Regions from separate parts of the Homo sapiens genome. Here region 2 is linked to region 1. Evidence: fine-mapped expression QTL. Tissue or cell type: whole blood. Region 1 holds a variant in brackets; the other region holds the start of a gene. All regions are shown on one strand. Distances are between the middles of the regions.

The links. PIP is the estimated chance that this variant, and not a neighbour inherited with it, causes the effect.
Region 2: it holds the start of MAFF, and the variant in region 1 is fine-mapped to the expression of MAFF in whole blood (TOPMed, PIP 0.97).

The regions. Positions count from the first base shown.
Region 1 is chr22:38,223,390-38,231,561 of GRCh38, reverse strand. TMEM184B (transmembrane protein 184B) reads left to right here. Exons shown (of 9, transcript NM_012264.5): 4 at 228-318; 5 at 818-893; 6 at 4,692-4,783; 7 at 5,969-6,138; 8 at 6,583-6,777. It overlaps SNORA92 (small nucleolar RNA, H/ACA box 92), which reads left to right and starts at 6,842; the gene lies at 6,842-7,083. TMEM184B-AS1 (TMEM184B antisense RNA 1) reads right to left here and starts at 242. Exons shown (of 2, transcript NR_186700.1): 1 at 147-242. RefSeq lists enhancers at 1,848-2,578, 6,403-6,903. The variant C/T (reference allele first, on the strand shown) is at 3,854.
Region 2 is chr22:38,198,101-38,206,272 of GRCh38, reverse strand. It overlaps MAFF (MAF bZIP transcription factor F), which reads right to left and starts at 4,279. Exons shown (of 3, transcript NM_012323.4): 1 at 4,061-4,279. RefSeq lists silencers at 1,423-1,472, 2,693-2,772, 3,623-4,062, 4,123-4,452, a cis regulatory region at 1,685 and enhancers at 1,613-1,757, 7,142-7,191.

The DNA.
Region 1 (8,172 bases):
ATCCCGGGATAAGATAATTTAGGTGTGCCGGGTTTTGAACTTAGGAGTGGGAGGTCAGATGTCTGTGTTCTTGACGGGCTCCTTTTGCACAACCTTATGTCCCCCAGCCTCCTCCCTGTTGCCACACACAGCTGTGGCTCTTTCACCTCCATTGCTGTTTAGAATCCCAGCATCTGCGGACCCATTCTGCTGATTTGACTGGTTTCTCCTGGACACTCTCTTCGCAGCCTTGGTCATCTATAATTTCCTGAGCCTGTGCTATGAGTACCTAGGAGGAGAAAGTTCCATCATGTCGGAGATCAGAGGAAAACCCATTGAGTGAGTATGGAGTCTTCCCAGAGCCCTAAACCACCCCGTTTCCTGGGCCTGGTGTACCTCGAGCCGTCCTGGCACCAGCTGGACACAGACCATGTCTGCCCGTGACCTTGACCTGCTGTGCCTCACCACATTTCCTGAGCAACGCCATTCTTCTGGGCGTTTTAGGAGGGCCTCTGCGGCTCAGTCTTTCTCTCTCTGTCTCTTCCTGTCTCAGTCTTAGTGCTTTCCTGTCTGTTTCTGCCTCCTGCAGTTTTTACATTCAGAGCTCTCCAAGTTGGTTTGTCACCCCAGGGCCAGTGCAGCCCTGTGTCCCTCCGCCTATGGCATGTGCGGATGCCCTGCCATGCCTCTCCCTGTGCTTGGCCTCGGGTTCAAAGTCTGCCCAGAATGTGTGCCCCAGCTCGTCTGGATGGGTGGGAGGGCGGCCTTCCCCACCCCACTGTTCCCAAGTCCTGGCTCTTCACTCACTGCCACTGCCTGCTATGCTTGTCTCTTCCAGGTCCAGCTGTATGTATGGCACCTGCTGCCTCTGGGGAAAGACTTATTCCATCGGATTTCTGAGGTTCTGCAAACAGGTGTGTGCCCCCAGCAGCTGCCTAGCTCAGGAGGAGCAGGGCGGGGTCTGGGAGGCCCTGCCGTGGGCTGCCCTGGGCCCCACCTTAGAGGTCCCCTTTCCTATGAGGCACCCCAGGCCCCCAGCACCCACCCCCCGAAGCTGTTAGGCAGATACCACATTAGCAGGGTGTGCTTGGAGGGGCAGCGACCGACATCCTGGGAGTGTCTGTTGCACTGTGGGCAAGAGCTGATCCCAGACTCTTGCTCGTGTGACCAAGTCTCAGTGTGTGTGAAAATCAGAAGAAGTGCGTGGGGATTCTAGAACCTCCATTTGAAAACTTCTCATCAGCTGCAGCTAGGGGGCAGGAGGGTTTTGGCATTAAAGACACACGCCAGAACAGGCCTCTGCCGTCTCTTCGTCTCTCCCTGCATTTCCTGGTTGGCAATCCAGCCGCTCTAGCTTCCTGGGCTGACTTCCCTGTGGTCTAGAGTAGCCTTGGCAGTCCAGCCGCTCTAGCTTCCTGGGCTGGCCTCCCTGTGGTCTAGAGTAGCCTTGGCAATCCAGCCGCTCTAGCTTCCTGGGCTGACCTCCCTGTGGTCTAGAGTAGCCTTGGCAATCCAGCCGCTCTAGCTTCCTGGGCTGGCCTCCCTGTGGTCTAGAGTAGCCTTGGCAATCCAGCCGCTCTAGCTTCCTGGGCTGACCTCCCTGTGGTCTAGAGTAGCCTTGGCAATCCAGCCGCTCTAGCTTCCTGGGCTGGCCTCCCTGTGGTCTAGAGTAGCCTTGGCAATCCAGCCGCTCTAGCTTCCTGGGCTGACCTCCCTGTGGTCTAGAGTAGCCTTGGCAATCCAGCCGCTCTAGCTTCCTGGGCTGACCTCCCTGTGGTCTAGAGTAGCCTTGGCAATCCAGCCGCTCTAGCTTCCTGGGCTGACCTCCCTGTGGTCTAGAGTAGCCTTGGCAATCCAGCCGCTCTAGCTTCCTGGGCTGGCCTCCCTGTGGTCTAGAGTAGCCTTGGCAATCCAGCCACTCTAGCTTCCTGGGCTGACCTCCCTGTGGTCTAGAGTAGCCTTGGCAATCCAGCTGCTCTAGCTTCCTGGGCTGACCTCCCTGTGGTCTAGAGTAGCCTGGGTGGGGGCAGTGTGGTGGGGTCGCTCAGTGTGTGGGCCTGGGTGTCTGACCATCTGAGCCTGATTTCCAGCTTTTCCTCTGACTCTGTGACCTTGGATAATTGGCTTACCCTCTCTGAGCTTTAGTTTCCTCCACTGTAAAATGAGTGTAATGATACTCCTCTCTAGAGATGGTTGTGAGGATCAGATGAGGTCATGGATGTAGAGCTTTCAGCCCGGCGTGGTGGAGCCCACGGCCTCCTGTTCAGGGAGGCAGAGTCTGAGGGGATCACGCCCACTCTTCATGACCTTGCGTTAGTCTCCTCTGGGGCTCCGTAGGGGCTCTGTCATGTCAGCCCCTCCAGCTTCGCCAAGAGTAGTCACGAAAGTACATGAAACCCACAGCCAAGTCACGATGGCCCTGGAGGGCGGGGCCTGCTGCTCCCTTCTGTGCAGGGCCCAGGCCACAGGGCGGGCACACCCACAAAGCCTCCACCTGAACATGCCAAGTCTCCAGTTCTGCTTCCAGACCTTCCTTCCCTAGCATGTTCCTAAATTCAGAATCTCACCACTGGACCTGCAGGGAAAGAGTTAAAACTATCCTGGGTTCAGGGTGGGGCATTGAGAGCCATTGTTTACCAGTTGGTGCAGCCACCCAGGTTCCGGCCAGCTGTGACTCACTGCCTTGTTTGATGATTATATTGTCTACAAAATTTTGATTTCATGATTGTTAGCTAGTGTGGCCTTGTTAGAAATTATTCCCCAGCCCTGTGGGCTCAGATGTTCTGTTCTTGTTCCTGGCGGTGGCAGGGAGAGATATAAGAAGAAAGAGAACAAAAGAGGCCTCTTCCTTTCTTTACCAGGGCGAGAGAGCACACCCCACAGCTTTGTCCTAGAGGCACAGAGACAGGCCTTTGACTCCTCAGGGCCAGTGCTCAATATCCAGACCTTCTGGAGAGATTCCCTACTTAAAGTAGAGATTCCCAGATCAACCACCCACTACCCTAGCCCATAGGAGAAGTTCTGGAATGGAGCCCTGGAACCTGGCACATGTCTAAAGCTCCCTGGGGGTTCTGATGTCCAGCCCAGCCTGGGAACTGCTGACTGGTCCAGGGTATGGTCAGGTGATGATTCTGGGGCCTGCTGGCCTGGGCTCTGCTGCTGCTGCTGCTGCTGCTTCAGCTTCTCTCTGCCTCAGTTTCCTCACCTGTACCATGGGGATAATGACAGCACCCACGTCAGGGGGCTGTCATGAGTACCAGGTGAGCTGACCCAGGGAAACACCAGCCTGTTGCTAGGCTCATAACTGGAACTCATGCAAACTGCCGTTCTTCCCTTTTCCCCAGAAGGTGCCAGTCCCACTTCTCTAGGCGGGATGACAGGGCCAGGGACGTTCTGTGGGGCTTTCTGAGAGTGGGACTGCACGTCTGCCCCATCACGCGGGCCTCTCCGTATGGCAGCCCCATGGTGTGGGCTGCCTGGGGCTCCCCTGCAAGACCCACTCAGATCCCCAGTTGGGGCAGAAGCTGCAGGTTTCACGGATCACGGTTCCCACTCCAGGCTCCTCGTCCTCTTTGCAGCTACACTAGTTGAGCCTTTTGGATTGGATTTAACCTCCCCCAGCTCCTCAGAAGGGGTCTTAGGGCTTAGATTTATTTGCTTTCTAGATAATGGTGATACTAGTGATGTTATGGGCACCATGGGTCCGCCCGTAGGGAATCGGGAAAACCTGGCTGAGGAACTCTTTCCGTGGCTCAGCCAGCTAGCAGGCGCCGTTAGTGCATGTACAGAGGCGGGAGACTCCCGAGAAGATGCTGCGCTTCCTGGCTGTGCCATCCCCGCAGCAGTGGCCCTGTGGTGTGGGGAGTGACTACAT[C/T]CTTTTCATCAGGGAGTCTGTGCTCAGAGGCCAAGTGTCTGCCCAAGCTGTCCCCAGAGTTCAAACTCAGATTTTGAGACTCTGGAGTCCACGTGCTCTGGGCTCCTGCAGGTCACCTCCATCCCCAGAGTGACCTCTGCTGACCAGAAACCCTGGACCCAGGCCCAGAGAGTAGGGCTAGGAACCAGATCGGGGGTGGACATGGAGGATGGGAGGAGGCCCTCACCTGCGCCGGCTTCCCGGTGGCTGGTTCCTTGAGCAGGGCCCTAGCCTTGCCCCGGGCACCAAGGTCTCCAGGACCTGGCCCTGCCCATCTCCTCAGCCACCTCTCTAGTGCGCAGCCCCTTGCACCTGTCCACCCTCTGCCTCGGGGCCTTGGTGCAAGCTGCCCCCTCTGCCTGTCGAGCCTCTCATCTCCGGCACCCACCTGATGGTCCTGGCTCGAGAAGCTTCCTTGTGTGCATCTCCTGTCTCCCGCCTCCATCGTGCCCTGCCACACCATTCCTCCCTTCCTCCCTCCCTTCCTCCACATGCTCATATCACATACGGCATTGCGCTGGCTGCATCTCCTATATGTTCTGCCCCCCGCCCCGCGCAGACAGCAGTCCCCTGGGAGCAGGACACGTAGCCACCCCCCATCTCCTCCATCTCCTCTATCCTTCCATCCCCTCCATCCCTTCGTCCCTCCATCCCCTCCGTCCCTCCATCCCTCCGTCCTCTCCGTCTCCTTCATCCTCTCTGTCCCTCCATCCGGTACAGTTCCGTCTGCCAGAGGCAGGGCTTGCTTCATGCCTTCTGTGCTCCTCCTCCACACTCAACCTCCTTTTCCCCCCAACAGGCCACCCTGCAGTTCTGTGTGGTGAAGCCACTCATGGCGGTCAGCACTGTGGTCCTCCAGGCCTTCGGCAAGTACCGGGATGGGGACTTTGAGTAAGCAGCGGGTGCTCCCCGGGGTGTGTGGGAGGAGTGTTGGCGCAGGCTGGTGCCTTGGCTCAGGGAAGGGGGCAGCCAGAGTGGCCGCACAGCCATGACCTTCCTGGGTGTCTGGTGCTCACAACCCCCCTGAAGTCTGAGCCCAGCAGTGGACACCCTTGCAGTTGGCCCCGCTGCCAGCCCCGGAGTGAGCCATTGGCAGCAGTCACGTTCATGTCCAGGCTGCAGAGTGGTACCATGAAGGGATGGGCCACAAAGGGACAGTGACCACTGCTGAGGCAGGGAGCGAGAGGGTCAGAGCCCCAAGAGGTCGGCTCAAGTCCACAGATACAAAGCCCGTGCTGTGTAAATTGTCCACACCCATTTCATTCTGGGCTTAGTGAAAGTGACCCCGTGGCTGGGCACAGTGGTTCACGCCTGTAATCCTAGCACTTTGGGAGGCCAACGCGGGTAGATCACCTGAGGTCAGGAGTTCAAGACCAGCCTGGCCAACATGGTGAAACCCCATCACTACTAAAAATACAAAAAATTAACCGGGCGTGGTGACGGGTGCCTATAATCCCAGCTACTCGGGAGGCTGAGGCAGGAGAATCGCTTGAACCCAGGAGGCAGAGGTTGCGGTGAGCCAAGATCACGCCATTGCACTCTAGCCTGGGTGACAAGAACAAAACTCCATATCTAAAAAAAAAAAAAAAAAAAGTGACCATGTGTCTAGCCCTGTGCTTTCAAGCTCTCGGCACACACTGTCTGTGAACTGTGTAACAGCCCTGCCAGGGCAGGTGGGCAAAAGGAGGTCAGGGGGATGCAGCCGACCGAGTGAAAAGGCAGCAGAGCTGAGCAGCGTCACCTATTTTGACGCCTGTTATCTGAGTGTCAGGCTATGGCCTCGGGCCCGGCCCTGGCTTCCACACTGGTGTCCAACGTTAGGAGTGTGGGCACCAGGGCTTAGACAAGTCCACGAGCCACGCAGAGGCAGTAGAGCTGGTCTGGCCTGCAGGCGCACCCCATGTACCCCCACCCCTGTCTGTCGCTTTGATCACCCATTCTGACCCCTTCAGTGGCTCGTTGAGCTCTGCTGGAGGTGTGGGGCTGAGAGCCATGGGGACTGTGTGTGGTGCAGTCGAGGAGAGCCCCTTCCCTCCAAGGGTCTGTCCCAGCCAGAAAATGCTCCCCGTCCCGCAGCGTCACCAGTGGCTACCTCTACGTGACCATCATCTACAACATCTCCGTCAGCCTGGCCCTCTACGCCCTCTTCCTCTTCTACTTCGCCACCCGGGAGCTGCTCAGCCCCTACAGCCCCGTCCTCAAGTTCTTCATGGTCAAGTCCGTCATCTTTCTTTCCTTCTGGCAAGGTGAGCCCCCTCCCAGCACCTGGAGGCTGCCCATGCCACCCTGTCCTCTGCGCTTCCTGCTGCCCCTTCTGCTTATGGTCCCTGGTGCCTGTAGGGCCTGTTCAGAGGGGCCTCAGCCCACTGGGCACTTGCTGGGGGTGAAATCTGAGCCCTCGAGGGCCTTTCCCAGGGGCTAGGGAGAGCTTTGGTGGGGCCGCTACATGGATGAGAGGGCCCAGGAGACCCTGCGTAATTGCTGGCATCTCAGTTTCGGTGGCAAAGAGCTGGGAGAGTGGGGTTTCCGGAGGCTGTGGCCTTGTGTCGCTACCCCTGCCCTGCAGGAGCAGCTGTGGCCCTGCTCACATCCTCACTGGGGCATGTGGGCAGCTGAATGGGGCATTGTGGAAGAAGGGGGAGCAGGAAAGGAATCATTCTGGGTCCAGACACCCGTGCCTCCCCATCCAGGCATGCTCCTGGCCATCCTGGAGAAGTGTGGGGCCATCCCCAAAATCCACTCGGCCCGCGTGTCGGTGGGCGAGGGCACCGTGGCTGCCGGCTACCAGGACTTCATCATCTGTGTGGAGATGTTCTTTGCAGCCCTGGCCCTGCGGCACGCCTTCACCTACAAGGTCTATGCTGACAAGAGGCTGGACGCACAAGGTATGAGCCAGGGTCCTAGGCGACCCCCGCTGGGAGAAGCAGGGAGCCCCAAACATCCCAGGACCCTCCCACCTCCCAGCATCCTACAGGTGCGGCTGGGTCAGGACATGGGATCCCCACTCTATATGCAGGAATGGGGCCACAGAGGTCGGGGAAGAGCAGGTGCCACCAGCACGACCGATTCGGTCCTGGAAGCTCAGGCCACCTGTCCCTTGCAGCAGGTCCAAGTGTGGCGGTCCAGGGCTGATACAGACAGAGACTGTAATGAATAGACAAATTCCCTCGGGCTTCTAACTCCCAACACTGTGGTTACCATTTTGTCCTGTAATTCCCTCATCTCATATGCTATTTTTTAAAAAAAGGATACTTCTGGCCGGGCACGGTGGCTCACGCCTATAATCCCAGCACTTTGGGAGGCCGAGGCGGGTGGATCACAAGGTCAGGAGATCGAGACCATCCTGGCTAACACGGTGAAACCCTGTCTCTACTAAAAATACAAAAAATTAGCCGGGCGTGGTGGCGGGTGCTTGTAGTCCGAGCTACTCGGGAGGCTGAGGCAGGAGAATGGTGTGAATCCAGGAGGCGGAGCTTGCAGTGAGCGAGATTGTGCCATTGCACTCCAGCCTGGGTGACAGAGCAAGACTCCGTCTCAAAAAAAAGAAAGAAAGAAAAAAAAGAATACTTCTGAGAAACAGACTCGGATGGTAATAGGTTTTAACAGCTTTCTTTTACACCTGCGAATCTTCCTCCTTGCTAGAACAGTGGTAAGTAGCCCCAGTTGTACTGGAAAATGCCCTGGAGAGCTTTTGGAAGTGCTGATACCCAGCCCCACCCTCGGAGATCCCGCTGTAATGGGTCCGGGCTGGCAGGCTGGGTGTGCTGTGAGAGTTCTGTGCTTTAAGCACTCCCAGGGTGATGTGAAAGTGCTGCTGCCCGGGACGCTCCACTGGGCTGGAAGGGCTGCCTCTGGCCACTGGGCAGAAGGGGGTTGTCCTTGGAGGATGGGGAAGAGGAGGCTGGGAATGCCTGAGACTGATTGAGCCAGTAAAGGGGCAGGAGGGACTGGGGAGAGGGGAGCCTCCTTCTCTGACACATCCACCCAGGAGCCTGGCTGCTGCCAGCTGTCTGCCCGAGTGGCTGGAGGCAAGAAACCCACTTCCCCAGGGCCTACCTGCAGGCCCCACACAGGCTCCGTGGTGGGTGGTGTGGACTGTAGAAATGTCTGCCTGCAGCGGGGCTCCGCGGCCCACTTCCCGCCCCCCTTCCTCTGTGCCTTCCCTGGTGGGGGAAGACCTACTCTGTGCCCAAAGAGCAGGTGCACAAAGGCCAGGGGTTGCCACCTGGTGGCCCAGTTGGAAGGATCTAGCAAACACACACCCAGCATTGAGGGCAGTG
Region 2 (8,172 bases), 25 kb after region 1:
ACTAACCACACACAGCACCAATTCCCAGTGAGGCAGGCCACAGCCCCTGAGTCTTTCTCAGCACAGAACTGTTTTCTCCTGAGCTTGGACACAGCCTAGAATCCTCAACACTGCCTCCAGACCAGGCCTGAGAGATGGAACCATCAGCCATTCCCTATCCTTGATAATAGCGGAAGCTGGCTGTGATTGTAAATACCCTCAGGTGCTAGGAAGGTTTTGAACCTGCTCTTCCCCCACTCCTCCATGCCCTCCTGTCCGAGCCTCAGCCCCCTCAACCGCATCCTGGATGTCAGCTGAGGCACCCACGTTTGCCCAGGAATGTCCTAGCTCAGCAGTCAGGCAATCACAGGGGGAAAGTCACAAGAAGGGGGAACTTTCTGGTAACCTCAGGCTTTCCGCTGCCAACCCCAGGCCAGGGGCTGCCAAGGGGCCTGGGTCCTCTGCCTTTGCCAGGCTGGCTGACCCTGGGCCTGAGAAATAGTAGCTGATCCGATCCCCTGTTCAGCACCTGAGGCAACCAAGCCACTGTTTGGTAGCCGTGGCGGACTGGAACCCAGGGGTCCTCTGTCTTCTATGTCGGCCACCACCACCTCTCCCTGGCTTCTTCCCTTGGAAGCCAGCAGAGCTGACCTCCAGGGTCTGCAGGTTCATGACGTCTTCTGGAGGCATAAGGAGAGAGGTGACTCTTGAGGGACTGACAACTGCCTTGTCCAGTCAGCAGCCACAACCCTCCAACGTCCCCCTCCCTGGCCCCACCAGTCCACTCCAGAGACATCCTGTAGAAGGCCCACCCGCTGGCATGGGCTCCTTTCTGGCTGCTGAGCCATTCTGCTCGCTCTGTGAGGACAGGGAAAAAATGTGTTTTCCTAGCTCTTGGCAGTCAGCACTGCTGGAGCCTCCTCCCTGCTGGAAGGGGAGCAAGGCTGGAAGAACCAAGCACCACAGAGAAGCAACGGCCTGGGGTTCCAGCCCCAGTTCAGGTACCCTCTCACACTCGCTGTGTGGCCTCAGGTACGGCACTCCCTCTCTCTGGGCCTCAGTTTTCCCACTATGCCAAACGTCCTCCGAGCCTAAGGTACCTTCCAACAATGACTGTCTCTGAGTTTAGAGTTTCAGATTCTGGCCCAGAGCTCCAAGACCACCAGCAGAATGGAGGTAGGGAAAGGAAAGCGGTGAAGGCTTCCTGGAGGTGGGGGCATGAGACACAAACTATCAGACTATCAGACTAGCCCTCTTCTCCACCTGCACAGCCACAGACCACTTCCTCCTTCATCTGGACCATGACCACAACCGCCTGCTCACCAGCCTCTTGCCTTGCCCTCCGTCTCCAATCCCCATCATTGATCCTCCCCCAAGAGCTGTCAGAGGAATCACTACTGACACAAACCCACGAGCCTGTCCGTGCTTGGCCCATTTCAAAACCCTGCAATGCCAGCCTCCCCGCAAGCCAACACAGTAGGGTCCTCAGGCCTCAACCGTATTCCTGTCCACTCTCTCCCAGGATCGTATGCTAACAGATGAATGAACAGACAGCAAATTCTACTATCCCTGAATGTTTCCCAAAGGGACAAGCGGGCAGTGCATGCCTGTGTGTGTGAGGGAGGAAGTTGCCTGAGTCCTGAAGGATTTGCTCGCTTTTGGGAGACTGCTTCAAGATTCCCCCAGCCCCTGCCCTGGCTTCCTGTTTCTCTGGGGTTCCCAGGCCTTTTTCTCCATGTGTTGTGGAGCTCTTAGAGGGCAGGGATCCAGGGCTCATTCATTCAATCAGCAAACATCCAAGAAGCACCTACTATGTTCCAGGCTCTGTGCTGGGCCCTGGAGACCCTGAAGTGAATCACAGCTCCTGCCTTCAAGGGCTTCACAGACAACCACCACTCTATCAGACTCAGCACACTAGTCACCTCCCCAGGGAAGCCTTCCTTGATTGCCCTGGCTAAGTCAGAGCGCTGTTATGTACTTTCAAACCACAGTGACTTCTCCCTCACATCACCCATCTAAGCTGTGTTTTGCATTTACTTCTGTGGATCTTTTTTCAAGTTTGTGTCCGCTGCTGAGCTATAAGCTCCCAGAGGGCAGTCTCTGGATCTGGTCTGTTCATCTCATCCCTGGCATCTGGTCCAGGACAAGGGCCCAATGGCAATGCAGGGCCCAGGGGTGATTCAATGGGAAGTTAAACTTCTCAGTGCTAACTTTCCATCTGGGACTGAGTCAACCAGCCACTTCCCCTCATCCCCTGACCCCAGGCCCTACTTTGTAATGTTTCCTGCCCAGCTTTGAGGGTGGGCCTGTCTGGTTCCTGTGCTCCTGGCCCCAACCCTCCTGACTCAAACCCCACCTACTCTTGGGTACCCCCAGCTCCTGGCATGGGGCTGTCAGCCCTGCTTTCTCTTCCACAATTCACCTGGAAAATACGCTGTCTGCACAGACTTCCAGAGCTTCCCCCTTCTACCCACCATCCTGCCATCCTGGCTGTTACCTAGTTCCCAGTGGTAGATGGGAATACTGAGGGTCCGGGCTGCTGTAGCAGAGCTCACCCAGGGTTCAAAGATCCAAAGTCAAAAGATCATTGGTTCCTCACCCTAGCAAGTTCAATTGCTCCCCTCCCACAATTCCATAGACCGTGGGTGGGTGGGTGGAGGGGGAAGGTGGATTAAGACCAAGGAATCTCTAGCCCCCAGCCCATCCTGCAGGCGGCTACGACAAACAGGTGCTTTCTGCAGGGCTATTGGGTGAGTGGGTGGGTGGCGGCTAGGTCAGGCCCCACCCCTCACTCATTAACCCTCCGTGCAGTCAGAGTTCTATCCCCAATGCCTACTGACCCTGCCTGGCCCAGGGTGAGGGCACTCGGGGTCTGTCGGCTGGCTCAGAGCCTCAGCTAGCTTCCGGCGTCCAGCTGTAGGTCAGTCTAGTCTCACCAGTCCCACTTGTGAACTGAAACTACCAGGAGAGCGGAAACCGGCTCCGCCCCATCCTCCACGACCTAGCAGGTACAGCCTCCAGAACCCGGACTAGCTAAAAGCCTGTGGTCCTCTCCCTGCGCCGCACCCTTGCAGTCAAGGTTTTCTGGCCCTTCCTGTTCTCATGGGACTGAGGGGATGGGCAACCCTGGGGACGAACGAGAGTCCCTTGGTTCTTCCCTCCCCAGGAAGCCCCAAAATCTGGGGACAAGAACCTGGGCTCCAACTCACTTTGTTACCAGATCCACCGGGGTGCCAAGCGGGGGTGGCTCACATCCCTCACTCCTAGCTCAGCTGGGTGGGGTCTTTGATACCTTGCCCCACCCTGTGGCTGCGGGCGCGGGCTCTGGGCGGGAGACAAACACTGGGGTCACGTGGCGGAGGCCCTGGGAAACTCCGGGGAGAGCCGGGGACGGACAGCCCCGGGTAGTAGGACTGGGGCGGCCCGGGCCAGAATTCCCAGACCCCGTGCGAAGACGCACGGGTCCGCTTCCTTCGCTCGGGTCCTTGTTCCGCGTTTACTCCGGTGGCCGGCCCAGGGCACGCCCTCTCCGAGGTACACACTGCTGGTGTACAGGCCCCAGGGAGCGCGCGCGCGGACACGCACACACAAGCACAACACACGCACACACGCCCCCGAGGTACACAGCGCACGCACGCACCGGGCAGGATACCCAGGCCGCCCGCCAGGGAACACACGCCCGCCCTCGGACGTAAACAAACCGCGCACGCACCGCCCGCGGGCGCCGGGCCAGGGCCTGTTCCCACCGAGTCACGTAGGAGCACAGCGCCCCCGCCCCCGCCGGGCGGACGCGGAGATCGCCGGCCTGCGCTGCCCCTTCCTCCCGGCGCCGCCGCCTACCCGCCCGCGCCCCGGGAAGGGGCCCCGTCTCCACCCCCACTCCCCCGAGCTGGCCTCGGCCCCGTCCTCGGCGTCCCCGGGACGGCCGCTCCCTTCTCCCCGCCCCGAGCCGTCCGGGCGATGGAGCTCCGGGAGCCCCGACGGATCGGGCCCGGGCGCCCACCCCAGGCGCATCCCGGGACGCAGAAACCCTGCCGCCTTGGGGTCCCGCGCACCGTCCTCCTGGTCCCGCGTTCCTCACCCGCTTCTGGGCCCGCTTGGTCCGGCGCGCTCACACACGCGCGTCTCGCCGCTGTCCCGGCCGCTGTCCCGATCCGCGCTCCGGTCAGTCTCCCCTCCGCTCTGAGCCGCAGGTCGCTCTGAACCGGGCGCCCGGGAGCGCTGCGCTGAGTTTTGTTGTGGGGCGGGCGGCGCAGGGGGCCGAGGCCGCGCGGAGTTGTAAGGCGAGCTTCCCGGAATTACTCACTCACAGGATTCCTTTCATTCATAAAAACCCAGTCATGCGGTGACGTCACCGACCCGGCCGCCCTCCGGCCAGGAGCGGCCGCTTGGTCCCTCGGCCCCGCCCCCGTATGACCCCGCCCCCTGGAAGCCCCGCCCCCGGGGCTGCCGCGATTCTCTGCCTGGTTCCAGGGCTCGCTGGGTGCGTTCACGTGACACCTCGCGAGAGCCCCGTGGGTGTAGGTGTCATTGGCTCATTTTACAGGTAGTGGTCCTGGCCCTCTTCTTTCGACCTAGACCTTCTGCCTTAATGATCTCATCCAGTCCCGTGGCTTTAAATGACATTTATATGGCTATGAGCCCCAGGTTTGTATTTCCGGAGCGAACAGCTTCTCTGAGTTCCAGACTCATAGCCAGCTGCCCACTCTGCGCATCCAGTGGGTGTCAGATGGGCACTGCAGAGGACTCGGCCCAAAAACCCGCTCCTGATCGTCAGCCCTACCTCTGCTCCCTTGCCACCCCATCTCAGCTGCTCAAGCCAAAACCTTGGAGCCTGGCTCCATCCCTCCCTCTCCCTTCCTCCCCACCTCAGGACTCAAGCTAGCGGTGTCTCCAGGTCTCCTGCATAGGACCATTTCTCACCACCTCCAGTCATGGCACCTGGTCTCGGCACCATCAGCTTACCCGGACAATGGCAGCAGCCTCCGAGGCTCCCTACTTTGCCTCCAAAGTCTTTCTTTCTATACCAGCCAATGTTCTTCTCAAAACAAAGCTCAGGTTGTTTACACACCTTCTTTGGCCACTCTCTCCTCATCCACTGCTCTTCGGCCACAGTGCCCTTCTTTCTGTCCCCCAAACATACCAAGCTCATTCCTGCGACAGGCCCTTGGCACTGGCTGTCTGGTCTTCTGTTCACTTGCCTGACTCTTTCTCATCTTTCACGTCAGCCCGGATGTCACTGCCTCAGAGAGACATTTCCTGACCACCCTGGTTAAAGCAGTCTTCACCTCTGAATTTTTTTTTTTTTTTCGAGACAGGGTCTCACTCTGTCACCCAGGCTGGAGTGCAGTGGCACAATCTCGGCTCACTGCAACCTCCTTCTCCTGGACTCCAGCCATTCTCCCACCTTAGCCTCCCAAGTAGCTGGGACCATAAGCACACACCACCATGCTAGGTTCATTTTTTGTATTTTTTTTTTTTTTTTTTTTTTTTTTTTTTTGTAGAGACAGGGTTTTGCCATGTTGCCCAAACTGGTCTCAAACTCCTGGACTCAGGCAATCCACCCACGCTGGCCTCCCAAAGTAATGGGATTACAGGCGCAAGCCACCGCACCCAGCCTTGAAATTTGTTCTTATATTATCTTAATACTTCTGTAGGGTGTTTCATCATTTATGTATGTGAGTGCTGGTTATTGTCTGTCTTCCCCAACCAGAATGTATGTTTTATGAAGGCAGGCCTTGCTTCTTTTTCTTTTTCTTTTTTTTTTTTTGAGACAGAGTCTCACTCTGTTGCCCAGGCTGGAGTGCAGTGGCATAATCTTGGCTCACTGCAACCTCCGCCTCCCAGGTTCAAGGAATTCAGCCCCCCAGTAGCTGGACTACAGGTGAGTCACCATGCCCAGCCAGGCTGGTTTTGAACCCCTGACCTCAGGCCACCCACCTCGGCCTCCCAAAGTGTTGGGATTGCAGACATGAGCCACTGCGCCTGGCCAGGCTTATCTTGTTCACCACTGCCTGCCCAGTGCCTGGAGTAGTGCTTGGCACATAGTAGGCCCACAGTAAATACATGTTGAAGGAATACATGACTGGAGGCTCAGAGAGGTGAAGGTGACTTTCTAAATTCACTCAGCTAGGAAGTACAAGCACTGGAATTGGTATCCAGGTCTGAATGATTCCTGGCCCAGATGTTTGGGGGTACATCGCAACCAGGGGAGGAGGGCCACATAAACATGAGGGGTGTGCGCCGTGGTGGGAAGCCCCACCCAAAAGAGATGGCTTTGGAGGCCACGTGCGGGGTGGATGTTGCTGTTCATCCCCTGCTTTCCTTTGCTCATGATGTTCCCACTGCCTGAAATTCCATCGCTCCCACAGTCCCTCCTGTGAAGCCGACATCATGGCACTTACTCCACTGTGGAGGGCATAGGGCCTCTCCAAATGGGTAGGCCTCTATGTGGCACCCTGATCACCAGTAAGGATCCCCACTTTCCTTTTTTTTTTTTTTTTTTTGAGCCGGAGTCTCGCTGTGTTGCCCCAGGCTGGAGTGCAGTGGCGCGATCTCAGCTCACTGCAAGCTCCACCTCCCGGGTTCACGCCATTCTCCAGCCTCAGCCTCCCGAGTAGCTGGGACTACAGGCGCCCGCCACCGCGCCCTCCTAATTTTTTTTTTTTGTATTTTTAGTAGAGACGGGGTTTCACCGTGGTGTCGATCTCCTGACCTCGTGATCCACCCGCCTCGGCCTCCCAAAGTGCTGGGATTACACGCGTGAGCCACCGCGCCCAGCCCCCCACTTTCCTTGATGTAGCAAATTCGATTTCAGCGCCCTTGTCTTGCTTTCCTGCCTCTGTGCCTTGGTCCACCAGACACTATGGCTTCTTTCCGTTCCCTCCCACAGGCTGTGGGTTTGGTATGCAAATTGGCCCACTAGTTTCCCAAGTGACCAAATGTTGAGGCAGCTTTGTCTAGCACTCAAAAGGATCTCTAAAAACCAATTGCTCAGTCCTCTCCATGTGCATAGCAGAAAGAGCCACCTAGGTTAACCTTTGGGGTAGGAAAGTTCTCAGTTTTAGAAACTGCACAATGGTGAGTTGTCTATTTTCTCTACCCCCCACCCCCTTTAAAACCAAAACCAAAACAAAACAAAACAGGGTCTTGCCCTGTTGCCCAGGCTGGAGTGCAGTGGCATGATCATAGCTCACTGCAGCCTTGAACTTCTGGGCTCAAGCGATCCTCTCACCTCAGCCTCCCGAGTAGTTGGGACTACAAGTGTGCATCACTGTGCCTGGATAATTTTTCTATTTTTTGCAGAGATGGAGGTCTCACCATATTGCATAGGTTGATCTTGAACCCTTGGCCTCAAGCCTTCCTTCTGCCTCAGCCTCCCAATCTACTCCCTTTTTTATGAGCTTCTCAAGAGCTGGGGCCACACCTGGAACACTGTAGGTGCTCAGCTAGTGAGTGAATTCTCAGTGGACCTGAACAACACTCCTGGACACCATGCTGCCTAGATCCTTTACTCCCATCCCCAGCCTGCCAGAACAAGGGGGTCAGTGCCTCATTATCCACCCTGCAGGGACTGCTTCCCATAGACATAGCTCCCTTTCTGGTCAAGATCAAGGGCCATGGTGCAATGTCCTATTTAAAAGTGGGAGCTCAGGCTGGGCATGGTGGCTCGCACCTGTATTCTCAGCACTTTGGGAGACCGAGGCAGGAGGATCACTTGAGCCCGGAGTTTGAGACCAGCCTGGGCAATATGGCGAAATCTTGTCTCTATTAAAAAAAGAAGAGGAAGAAAAAAAAAAAAGAAATGACCATCAGGCAGCCACCATAGTAATCATGGGTTGCAGCAAGAATCACCAATGGATATGAAAGCTTGATGAGAAAGTATTTACATAGTTTCAAGTTATTTACCCACAAGATGATAATTAATTATGGAAGGAAAAATAATAACTCTGCAGTGGAGAAATTTGGCAGACACAACCTTCGCTAAGTGATCAAAGTTAATATCACCAGTAAGGGGCAAATTGCCACGGAGTTTGTAGATGAGGTAATTACTGCATGGATGCCCAACTTCCTGGCTTCAATGCTTGTCCTGTGGTCATAGAAGAGAATGTGTCCTTGATTTTAGGAAATATACACTGGAGTATTTATTTATTTATTTATTTATTTATTTTTTTGAGATGGAGTCTTGCTCTG